Linked DNA regions of Homo sapiens. The protein of the gene in region 1 interacts with the protein of each later gene in a pairwise test. Each region holds a gene or a part of one and is shown in the gene's direction. Other genes may lie near its edges.

The links.
Region 2: the proteins of GRAMD2B (region 1) and CD207 interact in binary tests that used the Homo sapiens proteins (3 or more experiments, as listed by UniProt).

Annotation. Positions count from the first base shown.
Region 1 is NC_000005.10:126,482,249-126,489,521, forward strand, and holds part of GRAMD2B (GRAM domain-containing protein 2B), read left to right. Parts: intron 1-1,214; coding exon 1,215-1,326; intron 1,327-2,150; coding exon of another isoform or gene 2,151-2,153; coding exon 2,154-2,276; intron 2,277-3,437; coding exon 3,438-3,525; intron 3,526-4,624; coding exon 4,625-4,729; intron 4,730-6,550; coding exon 6,551-6,644; intron 6,645-7,273.
Region 2 is NC_000002.12:70,832,692-70,840,702, reverse strand, and holds the start of CD207 (C-type lectin domain family 4 member K), read left to right. Parts: upstream 1-4,886; 5' UTR 4,887-4,926; coding exon 4,927-4,999; intron 5,000-5,095; coding exon 5,096-5,212; intron 5,213-6,682; coding exon 6,683-7,057; intron 7,058-7,651; coding exon 7,652-7,803; intron 7,804-8,011. UniProt on the Homo sapiens protein: Calcium-dependent lectin displaying mannose-binding specificity. Induces the formation of Birbeck granules (BGs); is a potent regulator of membrane superimposition and zippering.

The DNA of each region.
Region 1 (7,273 bases):
GTAGCCATGGCTGTACAACATTGTGAATATTCTAAACACCACTGAATTGTATACTTTTAAATGGTGGATTTTATGTTACCTGAATTTTATCTCAATTTCTTAAAAATCTACCTTGAAAAACAGTGGTGGGAAGCAGTACAGAATATAATGTAACACACTTGATTTGGAATCCAAGAAACCTGGTTTTAAATCTGGGCTCCACCCAGCTATGTTATAGCATCAGGCAAGCTTTAACTGCTTTGACTCAGTTTCTTCATCCATTAAAATGCCAGCTTCATGATGTGGCTGTGAAGATTAAATGCAATCATGTATGTAAGGAGCTTTGCATACTGCCTGATATGAGATAGGCATTCAAGAAATCATTACATTGAAGAAATTTTCAATTTTCCTTCTCCTATAAATCCTTGTATGAAATCGAAATGAGTGTTGAGATGAACAAAAGACAGCTAGTTCAAGGTGAAAGGTTGGTAATTTGCTTACAAGATGAGTCTCTTCTTCATTTGGCAGCTGACTAAATTGTTAAAAGCTCAGCCTAATTGTACCTTTGCCAGGACATTTTAATGACACCATTTGTCTCTTCAGTTCTTAAGCACTTTGGGGAACCAGTAGAATACAAAGTAGAATGTCTGTGCTTTTTACCTTACTCCTACATCATCTTTCTAAAATTTAAATGTACTATCACTAACCCTGTTTTGATTTAGTTGAGGGGAGAAAAAAAGCTTAAACTTTACTTTCAGGGTCTAATTGGCTAAAGCCACTTTTCCTTTTCTGTTTCCAATACTTTTTTAAAAAAATTATAAGTTAGTAATATCTTTCTCTCTGTCTACATATTTGAACTTGGATTTAAAGCTTTCTATTTTTTTCTCTTATATATGTCTGTAGTAATCAGGTTTTCTCATTACGAAGTGCTAATGAAACCTTCAGCTTCACACTGGAAGCTTCTCAATTATTGGCATTCTGGGTGTTTTCCTAGACATTTGTTGTTTCGAACGAGTTGGCCAGTGTTTGTTGACAGAATTTTAACTGCCTGAAAAATCTGTTTCAGTAACCAGATACTCAGTCATCTGTTGGGAAAATCCCAGTCGTATGGAGTAATCCTTCCTTCTATTCTATGTTTTATAGGTCAGGCCTAGGTGAAAGGGCTGGGAGTTACAAAGGCCTGCCTGTTTACTAAGGGAATATCAGCCTGTCTTCATTTCACTGTTTCCTTTCAGGATTTCAATGATGAATTCTCAGATCTGGATGGAGTGGTTCAACAAAGAAGGCAAGACATGGAAGGATATAGCAGTTCTGGTTCTCAAACTCCTGAATCTGAGAACTCTCGAGGTTTGGGAAATTGTTGTATTTTGACTAAAATTTAATTCCCCTCAAAACATCCTCACCCCACCCCCTTAAAAAAAAAAAGAAAAGAAAAGAAAGAAAAAAACCCACATTGTCTTCCTAGTTAAAAATCAGGAATGGAATCTGGAGAAAGGATGCCTTGAGAGTTGGAGGGAAAAGAATTGCCTATGTGGTAAAAATTCATTTGCTTTTATGCACATTTAACAGAGGTCTTTTAAATAGACCTAACGTTGGGGTGGTTGAGAGAAAAAAACATACAATTTTGTTTTTGTTTTTGTTTTTGAGGCTGGAGTGCAATGGCACAATCTCGGCTCCTGCAACCTCCACCCCCCGGGTTCAAGCAATTCTCCTGTCTCAGCCTCCTGAGTAGCTGGGATTACAGGCATGCGCCATCAAGCCCGGCTAATTTTTGTTATTTTTAGTAGAGACGGGGTTTCACCATGTTGGTCAGGCTGGTCTCAAACTCCTGACCTCGTGATCCACCCACTTTGGCCTCCCAAAGTGCTGGGATTACAGGCGTGAGCCACCGCACCGGCCTATTTTCTTCCCTCTTATTTCAATAATATTTTTAATTGTTACAGCTGAATTATCCATGTGAGTTGGTTGGAAAATGAAAGACTATCCTTATATCACTTTATTACTTATTTGCTTAAGCATTCAATTTCAGCCCCAGCCACCACAACTAACTTGTGAGACCATCCATTCACATTCTTGACCATTATGCATGTTAAGGGATTGATTTACTTGGAGATTAATCCTGTTTTTAAATACATTGGAGAGAACACTTACCCAGCTCTGTTTTGGCTTAGTAGATTTCCATGCGACAGAATCCCAAACAGTTCTGAATGTCTCCAAGGGAGAAGCAAAGCCAACTCGGGCAGATGCCCATGTGAACAGAGTACCTGAAGGAAAAGCCAAGAGTCTCCCTGTACAGGGTAAGGAATGGATGTCTCAGGGGGGTGGGTTTAGAAGGATTGGAGATGTCTGTTTGTAACTTTTTTTTTTTTTTTAGACAGCATCTTGCTCTATCACCCAGGCTGCTGTAGTGCAATAACATGATCTTGGCTCACTGCAACCTCTGCCTCTTGGATTCAAGCGATTCTCGTACCTCAGCCTCCTGAGTAGCTGGGATTACAGACGCATGCCACAATGCCTAGCTAATTTTTGTATTTTTAGTAGAGACAGGGTTTCACCATTTTGGTCAGGCTAGTCTCGAACTCCTGACCTCTAGTGATCCACCCGCCTCAGCCTCCCAAAATGCTGAGATTATAGGCTTGAGCCACCATGCCCGGCCTATTTGTAACTGGGTTTCACCTTATGACTGCTTTTCATATTCCCTTTCCTCCCTTTGTATTATAGGTCTTTGCATATTAATTCACTTATTCTTTTAGCAAACAGTACCCAGTTCCGTGCTTACAGTGGGGGATACAAAAGTGAATAGCCTTCATGGAGGTCACTTCATGATTCTGAATACATGAGATTATCTTTCAAAAATTTCTGTTACTGTAACCCCAGCACTTTGGGAGTCTGCGGTGGGAGGATTGCTTGAGTCCAAGGAGTTCAAGACCAGCCTGGGCAACATAGTGAGACCCTATCTCTACAAAAAAGTTAAAAATCAGCTGGGTGTGGTACATGTTTGTAGTTCCAGCTACTTGGGAGGCTGAGGCAGGAGGATTGCTTGAGCCCAGGAGGTCAAGGCTGCAATGAGCTGTGATCACGCCACTGTCACCTGGGCAACAGAGTGAGACTATCTCAAAAAAATAAAAAATTTTCCAGTAAAACTCAAATTTCTTATTTACTAATTATTCTAATAACTAGCTATACTGGTAAGGGAGCAAGGATATTGTTATATTGTCCATCATTGATTCCAGTACAATGCTTGACACAAAGAAGGCTGTGGATAGGTATGTAATCAATGGAATGTGTTGGAAGGAATTGTAACCACTGGTTAAAATGACAACTGGGAGACTTGATATTTTCTCTGATTTCTTTTACCTGGGAACAATTACCTCTCTCAAGTACCCCATAGGGATATTGCTGGATAAAAGAAGTGTGTTATGGTTTTAAACAGTTGTTTTTTGTTTTCCTCCCAACAGGTCTGTCAGAAACTGTTGGAATCTTACATAAAGTCAAGTCTCAGAAATGTCCGATGCTTCACCATATTCTTATATTCTATGCAATTGTGTAAGTACATGAATTTACTGTGAGTGACTAAGAAAATGATTCCATTCGCTAAAGGAATAATCTCTTCACACTGCCAAGACCTACTGTAAATCTCAATTGTCTGAAATGTGACCTACATCTTTACTTTGACAATTTCTGTCTCCTACTTCAGGTTTTTTTCCTTAGGCTTAGGTCACATTTTCATGGTTGTGCCAAACCCTGCAGAGGACTAAGTTCTGAGTGGGTACCATTAGTTGGGAAATTGCTCTGTGAATTATGAAGCATCTTTACCCTTGTTATTTTTTTTACCTTATTTTTTTAATTGACATATAATCATTGTAGGTATTTATGGACTACATAGTGATGTTTTGATACATATAATGTATACTGATCAGATCCGGGTAATTAGCATATCCATCACCCTTATCATCTCTTTGTGTTGAGAACATTCAATATCCTTCTTTTAGCTATTTGAAACTCTATCATTGTTAACTTTAGTCATTCTACAGTGATATTCAACACCAGAACCTATTCCTTCTATCTAGCTATAATTTTGTTTTGCCATCTGTCCCATGTCCCCTGAACAGGGGCCAACACAACTTGAAAATGTTGTCCTCATCCCCTTTACCAAAAATGTAGGCATAGACTTTTTTAACTTCTAGCGTGTAACCAATTGTTCTTCTGAAAATAGCCTGACCCAGTTCTAGGCTGTTCCTCCCAACCAAGGAAAATATGCCCAGTCTGGTTTCCAGATAAAGGAGGGAGTCACCAGAGAACATGGCTAAGATCTGCCCAGGCTCTTCTGGCAGAGGACGGTAGTACCGCAGGGAGGAGGAACACTGGCTTGGTACTCCAACTTGGGTCTGGCTCTGACCAGTGCTATTAGAAGGGCCATTATTTGCAAATTAAGGGACTTGGGCTAGAGGATTTTAAGTCTCTTCTAGCTGTAAGTTTTATAACAAGCATCAGCCTGTTTAAAAAGGATGTTTTTAAAATCTTTTTACCAAGTTATTTTGGAAAATACCTTGCCTCGGGTGTACCACATTGGCACTGAGTTGTTTTATGAACATCAGATCCTGGCCGTTAACCTAACGAAAGTTTCTCTTTCATCCGTTTCCAGTGTCTGTGCACTAATCATCTCGACCTTCTACATGAGATACAGAATTAATACTCTGGAGGAGCAGCTGGGGTTACTAACCTCCATTGTGGACACCCATAATACTGAGTAAGACGATTGCCTCTAGCTGTCATCTGCTTGCCATTCTGCTTAATATAATAATTGACCTGAACTTAGCATCCTTCTTAGTAAACATTAATTGGAGATACATTCTGTATGTGACATTTTGTTAAGTGTATATGTGGAAAGTAAAAAGGTAGGAGGGTCTAGAAATGAATGACCTAACCCTGTACTATTTTGGAGTTGTGGTAATGTTGCTAGTAATAAGGCAAGAAACAAGCCTAATTTTACATTATCTTGCTCGAATATGCTAAGATGCAGTTGTGACCTTGCCCCATTTATTAAACTACACAAGTTTACCTTAGTAAAATGGCAATAAATCAAGACACTCAGAGAAAGAAGCAATTCAAGAAACTCAGCACATTTTATCATGTATAACTTTTTATATTAACTCACTTATTTGCAAAACTCTTGACCACTGTCAAGATCAATGTGACTAGTAATTAATTGAATGTGTCTGTGAAGATTTTCCATCAGTCTTTTTTTTAACATGCCTGGCCTAATTAAACCTTTTCAGACATAGAGCTCTTTTCTTTAAACCTATTTACAAGAAGCTTTTGACACATTGCCTAAAAAGTGAAATAATTTATGCCATGTTAGAAAGTGTACATTTAGCCCAAGTTTTTGAAGTAGAGATATTTCCTGACAGAGTATTCACCACATGCTGAAGGCTCTATTAGAATGGATACATACACATACAAATACAGATGATTTTTCCTCATTATATTTTCACCATAACCTTAGAATAGAACTGTTCCCATTTTACAGATGAAGAAACTGAGACTCAGAGTAATAATTAGTTTAATGTCTTACAGTTTGCAGATTCAGCTGCAGGTCTATATAACTACAAAGACCATGGGCTCCTCAGTCTACCAGTGGCTCTCAAATTTTAATTTGCATCAGAATTATCTAGAATTGTTTAAACAGATTTCAGGGCTCATCTCCAGAGTGCCTGATATAGTAGGTCTGGGATGAGGCCTGAGAATTTGCATTTCCAGCAAGTTCCCAGGTGGTGCTGATGGCAATGGTCTGAGCTCTATACTTTGAGAAATACTGTGTTATACCATTCTAGGACCTTTCTTTACTCCATAGGAATTACCTTTAGGTGGCTTACATGTATGCAGGCATACAGGTTATTTTTGACCCATAAATATACACTTGAACTAATAAAATACAAAAGCCTAATAAACAGTTTGGTATGGATTCATACTCTGCCCTTAGTTTCTCCCATCTTGTTCAAAAAGTTAATATTGGCATAGAGATAAGAAGTGACTCCAGGCCAGGCACAGTGGCTCACGCCTGATTATGAGACAAGGGCAATTATAGTTGTATGATAAATCTCAAAGAAGAAACTACAAAAGTCTCGTGTTTCAAGGGACATTTGATTAACTAGATAAGGACATTCCTAAACTTGTAAAGTTCTAGTATAAATAGCTCAAAAGTACAATAATTCTTGTAAGTTTATGCTCTGGTGGAGACAGAAAGGATATTAGGGGTTAATAAAAGGGTTCTAAGAAACCACGTGCTTGAAAATAATTGCCTGATTTTTGTTTAGAAGCCGAAACACACCATATCCACTTAAACAAAAATAGCTTAAGAGATTTCCCGCTGAGCTTTTAAGAATTAGTTCCCTAAACATCTAGCCTGGAGTTGCGGATTACTGCAGGGCTTTGTCTAATATTAACAAATGAAATGTTCATTCTCTTCTATTATAAACCAATTTTCTGTTCAAATAAATTTTAAATGTGTTCATTCCACTTCTTTCCTTGTCATCCCTGCCCATAATAATTTTTCTCTTTTTTCTTACAGACAGGCAGCACCATCTGGCCTGAGGTCACAAGTACAATTCAATGTGGAGGTTCTCTGTCAAGAGCTTACAGCTAACATAGTGAAATTAGAAAAGGTGACCTATTTCTTTCCTGTGTATGGGGGCAGTCACAGTAGTGCCTGTTGGTTGCCCTAGGTCAGGTCAGGGATTACACACTCAGACGCCGTTAGTGTGCCGCAATAAACCTACATGATCAACCCTGGCTAGGGGCTTTTTATAGTAAATGTGGAAGAATATTTTTTATTTCCACAAAGAAATAGGTCTTAATCTCATTTTCCTTGAAATACATAGTCTTGTAGGTCTTTTGTTCTTCCTCCTTGATTAGACATATTACTTAATAGCACAGGGCCCAGTGGTAAGTGACTACTGACATCGGAGCTTAATGTAGGGACATAGTAGGGAGTGAACTGGAGACCAACCACTGGCTTGGCCAGAAAGTACAGCCCCAACTCCACCAAGGCTGACTGTTCCCATAGGTAAAATATTGCATGTAAGTCCTATTAGAACCATGGAAGATAGACGTCATTGTTCCCTATCTGATAGGGGAAGAATCAAGAGTTTCAAATTAGCTTGCTGAAGGTGACACACCTAGAAAGGCAGCAGACGTGAGTCTGCTGAGAGAGCATTAGAAGAAAAATACATAAATAAAGTCAGCAGATCTGGAACCTGAACCAGGCCTGTCTGACTGCAAAGTTGTGCTTAGA
Region 2 (8,011 bases), on another chromosome or scaffold:
TTCCCAATGGAGGGGGATTTTTGGTATCAGAAATGCAGGAGAGGTTGGGCGCAGTGGCTCACGCCTGTAATCCCAGCACTTTGGGAGGCCAAGGCAGGTGGATCACAAGGTCAGGAGATTGAGACCATCCTGGTTAACACGGTGAAACCCCGTCTCTACTAAAAATACAAAAAATTAGCCGGATGTGGTGGCAGACGCCTGTAGTCCCAGCTACTCAGGAGGGTGAGGCAGGAGAATTGCTTGAACCCTGGAGGCGGAGGTTGTAGTGAGCCGAGATCACGCCACTGCACTCCGGCCTGGGCAACAGAGTGAGACTCTATCTCAAACAAAAGAAAACAAAACAAAAAAACAAAAAAGAAAGGCAGGAGAGGTGGGGAAGGATGCTAGGGAAAATAAGCAGGAATTGTGTTGTGAATATGTATATAATATATGCATAGTTATGATTAGACACAGCTATGGCTATAGATATAGATGTGTATACATATACACGTGGGTGGTTAGGAAGACTGAACTATGGGTACAACATTTGTTTTCTCTACGATGGTTTTGTTGTGTTTTGTTTTGTTTTGAAACAGAGTCTCACTCTATCACCCAGGCTGGAGTGCGGTGGCACAATCTCAGCTCACTGCAATCTCCACCTTCCAGGTTCAAGTGATTCTCCCGCCTCAGCCGCCCGAGTAGCTGGGACTACAGGCACCCACCACCATGCCTGGCTGATTTTTGTATTTTTAGTAGAGACGAGTTTCACTTATGTTGGGCAGGCTGGTCTCAACCTCCTGACCCCAGGTGATCCACCCACCTTGGCCTCCCAAAGTGCTGGGATTACAGACATGAGCCACTGCACCCAGCCTATGGTGGGTTTTTTTCTTACTTGGATTTTTTTCTATAATTAATTATCATTAATTATATAATAAATAAAAGATTTAAAAAGAAACTATGCACATTTTTTTTCCCAAAAGCCTTTCATTACTTTCCTGACATAGATTTGCCCTTCCCACTGAGGCTATAGGCATGAGTTCTTTGACTTATGACGTAGTCTGGGGCAGCCTCCTCTGCCGGGTACACAGCAGCTCTTCCATGTGGCTAGGTTGCCAGCCTATTTACATATCACACTATTTATGATGGCACTGGGTGAAATACCCTGATCAGTAGGGTCTGGCTTATTGTCACTGTTCCAAAGAGACCTGTCCTCATATAATGTCATAAAAGAGGAACCCGTTATCAGGGTCCAAGGAGACCTGGGAAGGCCCCTATAGTGTCGTCAGTCATTTTTAGTCTCGGGAGAGCCTTCCCTTCTCCCCAGCATTAAGGATGTCATATTTTTTCAACAATAGGAAAACCATTCCTGAGGGCAGGGTCTGTGGTTGTCTTTTTCCTTGCTGTGTCCTGGTACCTAGTGCACAGCAGGACTAGAGGAGTGAATGGTGCCACCTATGCTCCTTGGTTTCTCTGCCCTATCCCCTGTGCCCAGGGCGCATGTCCGGAGGGTGGCATGGAATCCCTTGATTTTTTGGAGGCTGTGGGCCAAATCCCGCATCACATCACAGGAGTCCCTATGTAAGCCAGGTGTGACCAGCTGTAATCTCCTCTCATTTCAGAGTCATTCTCCCCTCCTCCCTCTCTTCTCCTTCCCTGTCCCCACTCCGCAATTTGGTGTTCACTCTACTTTCCTCCATGACTTGACTGAGGGACTTGGGTGACTCCTCCCTGGAGATGACTCTTGGCACTGCTGGAGCATTTCATACAACCCAGGTCTCTGTTCCAGTCTTGTTGATTAAACCCATGGTTCTCCTCCAAGCATAAGGCTGGGCCCAACCATAGTCTCAACCAGAGAAAGGGAAAAAGTGACCAAGCTGTTTTCTTCCTCCATCCTTATCCAGAGAAAATATTAGAACCCCAGGAACACAGGAAGAGGAGAAACTAAAAAAATGAGCACAGACTTCCCGTTCTCATCACAGCGGTGATTTTTTTGGTCACTAGGTCTGGCCAGAGTTCCTCTTCTGTTTGGAAGAGCAGGGCATTGTCTGAGTGCCCGGGAGAACTGCCCACCTTCCTGACTGGAAAGTGTGGCCAAGGCACCTGCCTGCTTCTCTGTCTTTTCTCCTGCCAGGCCAGGTGCCAGATAGAGCATCCAGAGGTTTGCACAGGAGAGGTGCTCAGGAAAGACCTGTAGATGAGCATGATAATAGGAAGATGGCTTCTGACTCCCTCCCTCTCCACAAAGTGGGAAATGAAACTTCCTATGGTTTGGGACTTTTACATCCACCTCCTCTGAAACCCCAGAAGGCCCACAGCCCAGGATTCCATGCCTTTGCTCAGCTTCCTCATGCTGGAACAGCCTTTCGCCTAGCGGTAGCTATTCTACCTACCTCAGCCTGCATTTCCATCACTTGGAGTAAATGCTCCCTGCTCCAGCCCCTTCCTATGCCATGGGCCCAGCCGCTAAGGCTTCCTCATCCTTTCCTGGGACCAATGAGAGGGCATCTGGGGGGCTCTATAAAGTATAACTCATACCACAAACCAGCAGAGAAAACCCAACTTCCTGACCGAGCGGAAATGGACAAGACACTTCCCAGGCACACTGTGTGGCGGCTTCTTTCCCGCAAATGCCTCAGGAGGAGACATGGACCCCTGCAAGGCCCCTTCTACCAGGGTCTTGAGTAATTTGGATTCTTCTCTATCCCCAGGCCCAGAAATAGGACAGGCTATGGATGAAGGGCCAGGAGCCAGGAGCAGAAGGGCAGAGATGATTCTGGAGTTAGGCTGGGTCCCAAGCATGAGAGTCCAGAAGTGGAACATTCTAATCCTGTCTAAGCCCTGATGGAACCAAGGCTCTGCAACCACACGAGCCACCTGAAGAGAGTAGGAATCTTCATGGACACCCAGAGGCAGGCAGTGATGTGGAGCCAGGCCCTCATATTCGGGACTATCAAATGTTAAAATTTAGAGCAGACAGCAGGCCTGGAAGTTACAGACAGGCTGGGTAGGGAAGCGATGGGACAGAACAAATGAGACACCATCTTTGCTACCCAGTTTCCTTCCCAGAGCTTCCCAGTGTGGGGTCCTCTCTGGGTTCCCTCATCCAGTCCGAGAAGCCACTCCAGCCTGAGGCCCGGTTAGCTGGAGAGAGAGCATCAAGGGCCTGTAACTACAATGAGCTGCACATAGGCATGGGCTGAGCGTGCAGCCACTATCCTCCCAAGTACCAAAGGTGGCAGTAGCCCCTGAAAGCATAGGTAGATATTTCCTTGGCCCTGTTAACTTAACCTCTAATCCTGGTCCCTGATACAGGCTGTCATCCAGCTCCACTGGCTCAGCCTCAGCAGGCCCAGGACAGCTTTCTTTTCCTGCGGCCAGAGCTTTTGTTCATTCCTGGGTAAGGAGTAAATCACACTTCCCCTTATGCTTTTGCATTGAAGATGAATGAGAACTTCTGGAGACAGTGGAAAAAAGCAGCAGCTTCTAGAAGGCAGATCCCAGGCCCCAGACTGTGTAAATGTCTGAGTGGCATGATCAGCTATCAAGTCTCCAAGTCACTTACCATTCACACATCCATCCATGCATCCTCTATCCATCCATTCATCCATTCACCCATCCTCCAATTATCTGGACCAATTTCCTTCTTTTTTCTTTCCTTCCCTCCCTCTTTCCTCTCCTCTTTCCTATATTCCAAGAAATATTTGTCTAGAGTCTGCCATGTGCCAAATTTCTCAGATTTGGCAGACTTCTTCAAAGCATGAGAAGCCGCCCAGGAGAAAATTTAGTCCTTCATTGAGCCCAAATCAGCTCTTCTGTGCCCTGAGCTTCTTGCACATATGGAACTCTCTATTTAGGACTACAAAGAAGGAGAGAGGAGGTGCGGACAGAGAGAGAGGAGAGAGAAACAGAACGATTCCTAGTCTGAGGTTGCTGAGCGCCCCTACTTTTTTTGAAAATCTCACATGGTGCAGGAAGCAGGGAGGAGAACCCAAGTCTTAGGTTTACACTTTGAATCTCCAAGTTGCATATTATAAAGGGATATTGTATCAGCCAAGATGCATTAATAACAGGAAGCAGGATATTCTATTGCAATGGTTGCCTATTTGGTATCTCTGCTTCCAGGCTTCTCCCCACCAGTCTGCTCCTCACCAGGATCAGAGTGATGTTTCTACAGTGTCCCTGTCCTTGTCTCTCTCCTGCCTGAAGTCCTTAATTGGCCCCATGTCACCCACAAGCCAGAGGTCCAGCTCCTTGACATGATCAGAAGGATCTTCATCATCAGACCCCAGGTGCCTCTTCAACCCCGTGTGCATCCCCTTCCTGTTGGAATGTATATTTTACATTCCAGCAATATTGCAACTATTTACAATTTGCCAAGCACTCCATGCTATCTTATGCTCCATCCTTTGGCATATGCTTATCTTTCTACTGGATTTTTTTTTTTCCCATTACTCCATTTCATATGCTTCTTTGAACTGGGCATATTTGTCTCTTGTGCTCATCACCTTGCAATTTATTTGCTCATGTCTGTCTTTCCTACCAGACTATGAGCTGCTTGGTGCAAGGACTGCGAGTTATTCATCACTGTGGCCCTATGCCTGGTAGAGCATCAGTACCTAGAAGGCACTCAGCCTGTATTTGTGGGGTGAATGGATGGGTGGATGGATGACGAGAGTCTTACAAGAGAAATGGGATAGGTTTGGGACAAGATGGTTAATGTATCCATGTAACAGACCCCCAGAGAAGACAACAAATGGCCTCTTCCTGAAAGCTCAGACTTCTGAGGATGGGAGTAAGCCAGACAAGGTATCTAGTCAGGAATAGGGAAGTTGGGATGATATGGTGACCTGCTGTGGGACTGACTTCCTGTTTCCTCTAGATAAGAGCCCTTGGAGAGACAGGCAGCCAGAAGCACCTGTGCTCCCAGGATAAGGGTGAGCACTCAGGATGACTGTGGAGAAGGAGGCCCCTGATGCGCACTTCACTGTGGACAAACAGAACATCTCCCTCTGGCCCCGAGGCAAGCCACATCGCTGCTGAGAACCTGCTCCGTGTTCTGTGTGCAAACCTGCCCTTTGCTGCTCCTTCAACACACATTTTCTTCTTCTTCCAACAGAGCCTCCTCCCAAGTCCGGTCCATCTCTGGTCCCGGGGAAAACACCCACAGTCCGTGCTGCATTAATCTGCCTGACGCTGGTCCTGGTCGCCTCCGTCCTGCTGCAGGCCGTCCTTTGTAAGTCCTCATGTTTCATCGTCTGGGCTTAGCCCCTCTCTGTGGCCAGCCGGCTCCCTTCAGATCGAGACCACTTCCCTGCTCTCCGGGTTTCTCCTGCCTGTGGCTTTTTCATTTGTCTCCTTCCTCCTCTTTCCATGTGCAGTAACAGGCTGTGCTGCCCCCAGTACGGTGAGCTGATGCTCTTTCCCTCCCAATTTCTGGGAGATTATTGGGATTAGCATTTGCACATTGGTGCTCAAGGATACATTCTTTTGTCCTCAGGAAACATTGATCTAGTTTTACATCCTGTGCTATTTTCTCCCCGTCCACCCCCCACCAATCTGAGCTCTGCTCCTTGGATCTAGAGCCTTGTGGACAGTCCTTGACAGTGCAATGTCTCCTGACCCTGTGAAGGACCGAGCCTCATGTATCATTGGCCCCAGCTCACCAGATGGAGAGCCTGGCCAACGAGCCAACAGATCTCCATGACTCAGTCCCCTCTCCCCAGGACTCGTTGGTGCTGTCTTCATTCTCCTGTCCCTGTGAAGATCACATCTAGGGAGGCTTCCTGCTCATTTGATGTTGCATGGTTTATCTTTCTTCCTTTTCTGGCTCTGTCAGGCTTCATGGCCTTTGCTGCTGGCAGAGCCTTCTTCCTCCTGCCAGGGCTCCAGGAAGCAGAGCAAAGGGACCCAAGAAGCTGTTGGGTTTTTTTTTCTCCCTCTGTGGCCTCGGGACATATTTGGGCTTAGACTTGTAGGCTCTGAGCAGAGTCCCCCTTGCCCCATCCTAGACCCCTGGCCTCTAACATCGCATTTTCCTCAGGGCTCGCCTTTGAGCCTCTTGGTTTATCTTTGATCCTCTCTCTGGTACCCAGGCCTGGGACCTGAGCAGAATGTGAAAGTGGGTGGGGCAAGGGAAGGGGAGAAACAGTTTTGTAATCTCCTCTTCCATGTTCTCTGGAGAAGCCACTTCCAGATTAGTGGCTGGTTCTTCCCATGGTCACAGAGGGGCCCATGGACAGATGTGGGGGAGTGGTGCTGTCCTAGCAGATGGCCACTGCAGGGGTTTCTGAAAACAGAGGGATGGCAACCAAGGGGTGGGGTCTAGGGGGAATCAAGTTCTGGGGACAGTGGTGGGGCTCATGGAGGGCACCCTTTATCAAATGTTCCCTGAACACTCAGAAAATTCAGGAATGGTTTCTAACTCCTGCTTCTGCTTGCCTGTGAAATCTTTTCACAGAGAGCCTGTGTTTTATCAATCTCCCCATTATCTGTATCCACCTGTGTTCCTGGCACATGGTAGGTGCCCATTGCACGTTTGTTGTACGTTAATGAATGATTGGAGGGTTGGGGTGGCCCATTGGACTGTCTTGGTTCTTTGGGAAGCTTCAGCCTATTCCTTCCCTTCCTTTGATCAACCTGACAACACCCCCACTCCTGTCCCTGGGACTCCCCTCAGCTGACCTCCTGACTTTCTCAATCCCAGATCCCCGGTTTATGGGCACCATATCAGATGTAAAGACCAATGTCCAGTTGCTGAAAGGTCGTGTGGACAACATCAGCACCCTGGATTCTGAAATTAAAAAGAATAGTGACGGCATGGAGGCAGCTGGCGTTCAGATCCAGATGGTGAATGAGAGCCTGGGTTATGTGCGTTCTCAGTTCCTGAAGTTAAAAACCAGTGTGGAGAAGGCCAACGCACAGATCCAGATCTTAACAAGAAGTTGGGAAGAAGTCAGTACCTTAAATGCCCAAATCCCAGAGTTAAAAAGTGATTTGGAGAAAGCCAGTGCTTTAAATACAAAGATCCGGGCACTCCAGGGCAGCTTGGAGAATATGAGCAAGTTGCTCAAACGACAAAGTAAGTGACTCAGAAAATTACATTGAAGCTGACCAGTGGCCCATGGGATCTTACCTGTCCCAGACCTGAGGCCATTGGGCTGGTGGGTTGGGGAGGAGAGTGGGGGCAAAAGAGGGGCAGCCATGGGCTAGGAAGTTAAGGAGAGAGGGCTTGAGGTTGGGGAGGACTTAGGGGCTGTTAGGAGAAAAGAGACCAGGGTCCAGCTAGAGCTCCCACACAAAAGTGCAGAATGTAAAAGCATTAGGGGATGTCCACCCTGGCCCACACCTAGTCATTTCCCATCAAGTTCCTTTCTAGAGTCCAGGGGCTCAGCCACTTGTCATGGCCGATGGAGGGTTGCTTCCTCATCATGGGGAAGACACTCTTTGTCCAACCTCTTGCATTATAACCTCTCCAGTCCCAGAGACTCTATTAGTCTCTGTCTGACTTTCAGGATTTGAAAGAGTGTCCCTAATCTCCTATACAAGGACCCAAGGACACCAGCGCACAGCTCCATTTGCTGCTGTCTCTGAGACCTCATTCAAGTGCCCCCACCAAGCCAGCATCCCAAGAAATCAAGAATACCAGCGTTCACTTTTACCTCTTGTTCTCTAGATGATATTCTACAGGTGGTTTCTCAAGGCTGGAAGTACTTCAAGGGGAACTTCTATTACTTTTCTCTCATTCCAAAGACCTGGTATAGTGCCGAGCAGTTCTGTGTGTCCAGGAATTCACACCTGACCTCGGTGACCTCAGAGAGTGAGCAGGTGAGTGCTGTGCCTATGGGCTCTGTGAAGGGGGCGTATGAGCACTGGGCCAGGGAGGATGGGCAAGATTATACTGCGTGAACAAAAATCCCCAAATATTGATGACCTAATGAAGAAGGATTGGTTCTCAGTAGCATGTCGAATAAGGGCCGGCAAGGGGGCTGTGCTCACTGTGGCTACTCAAGGACCCAGGCCCAAGGAGTCTTCA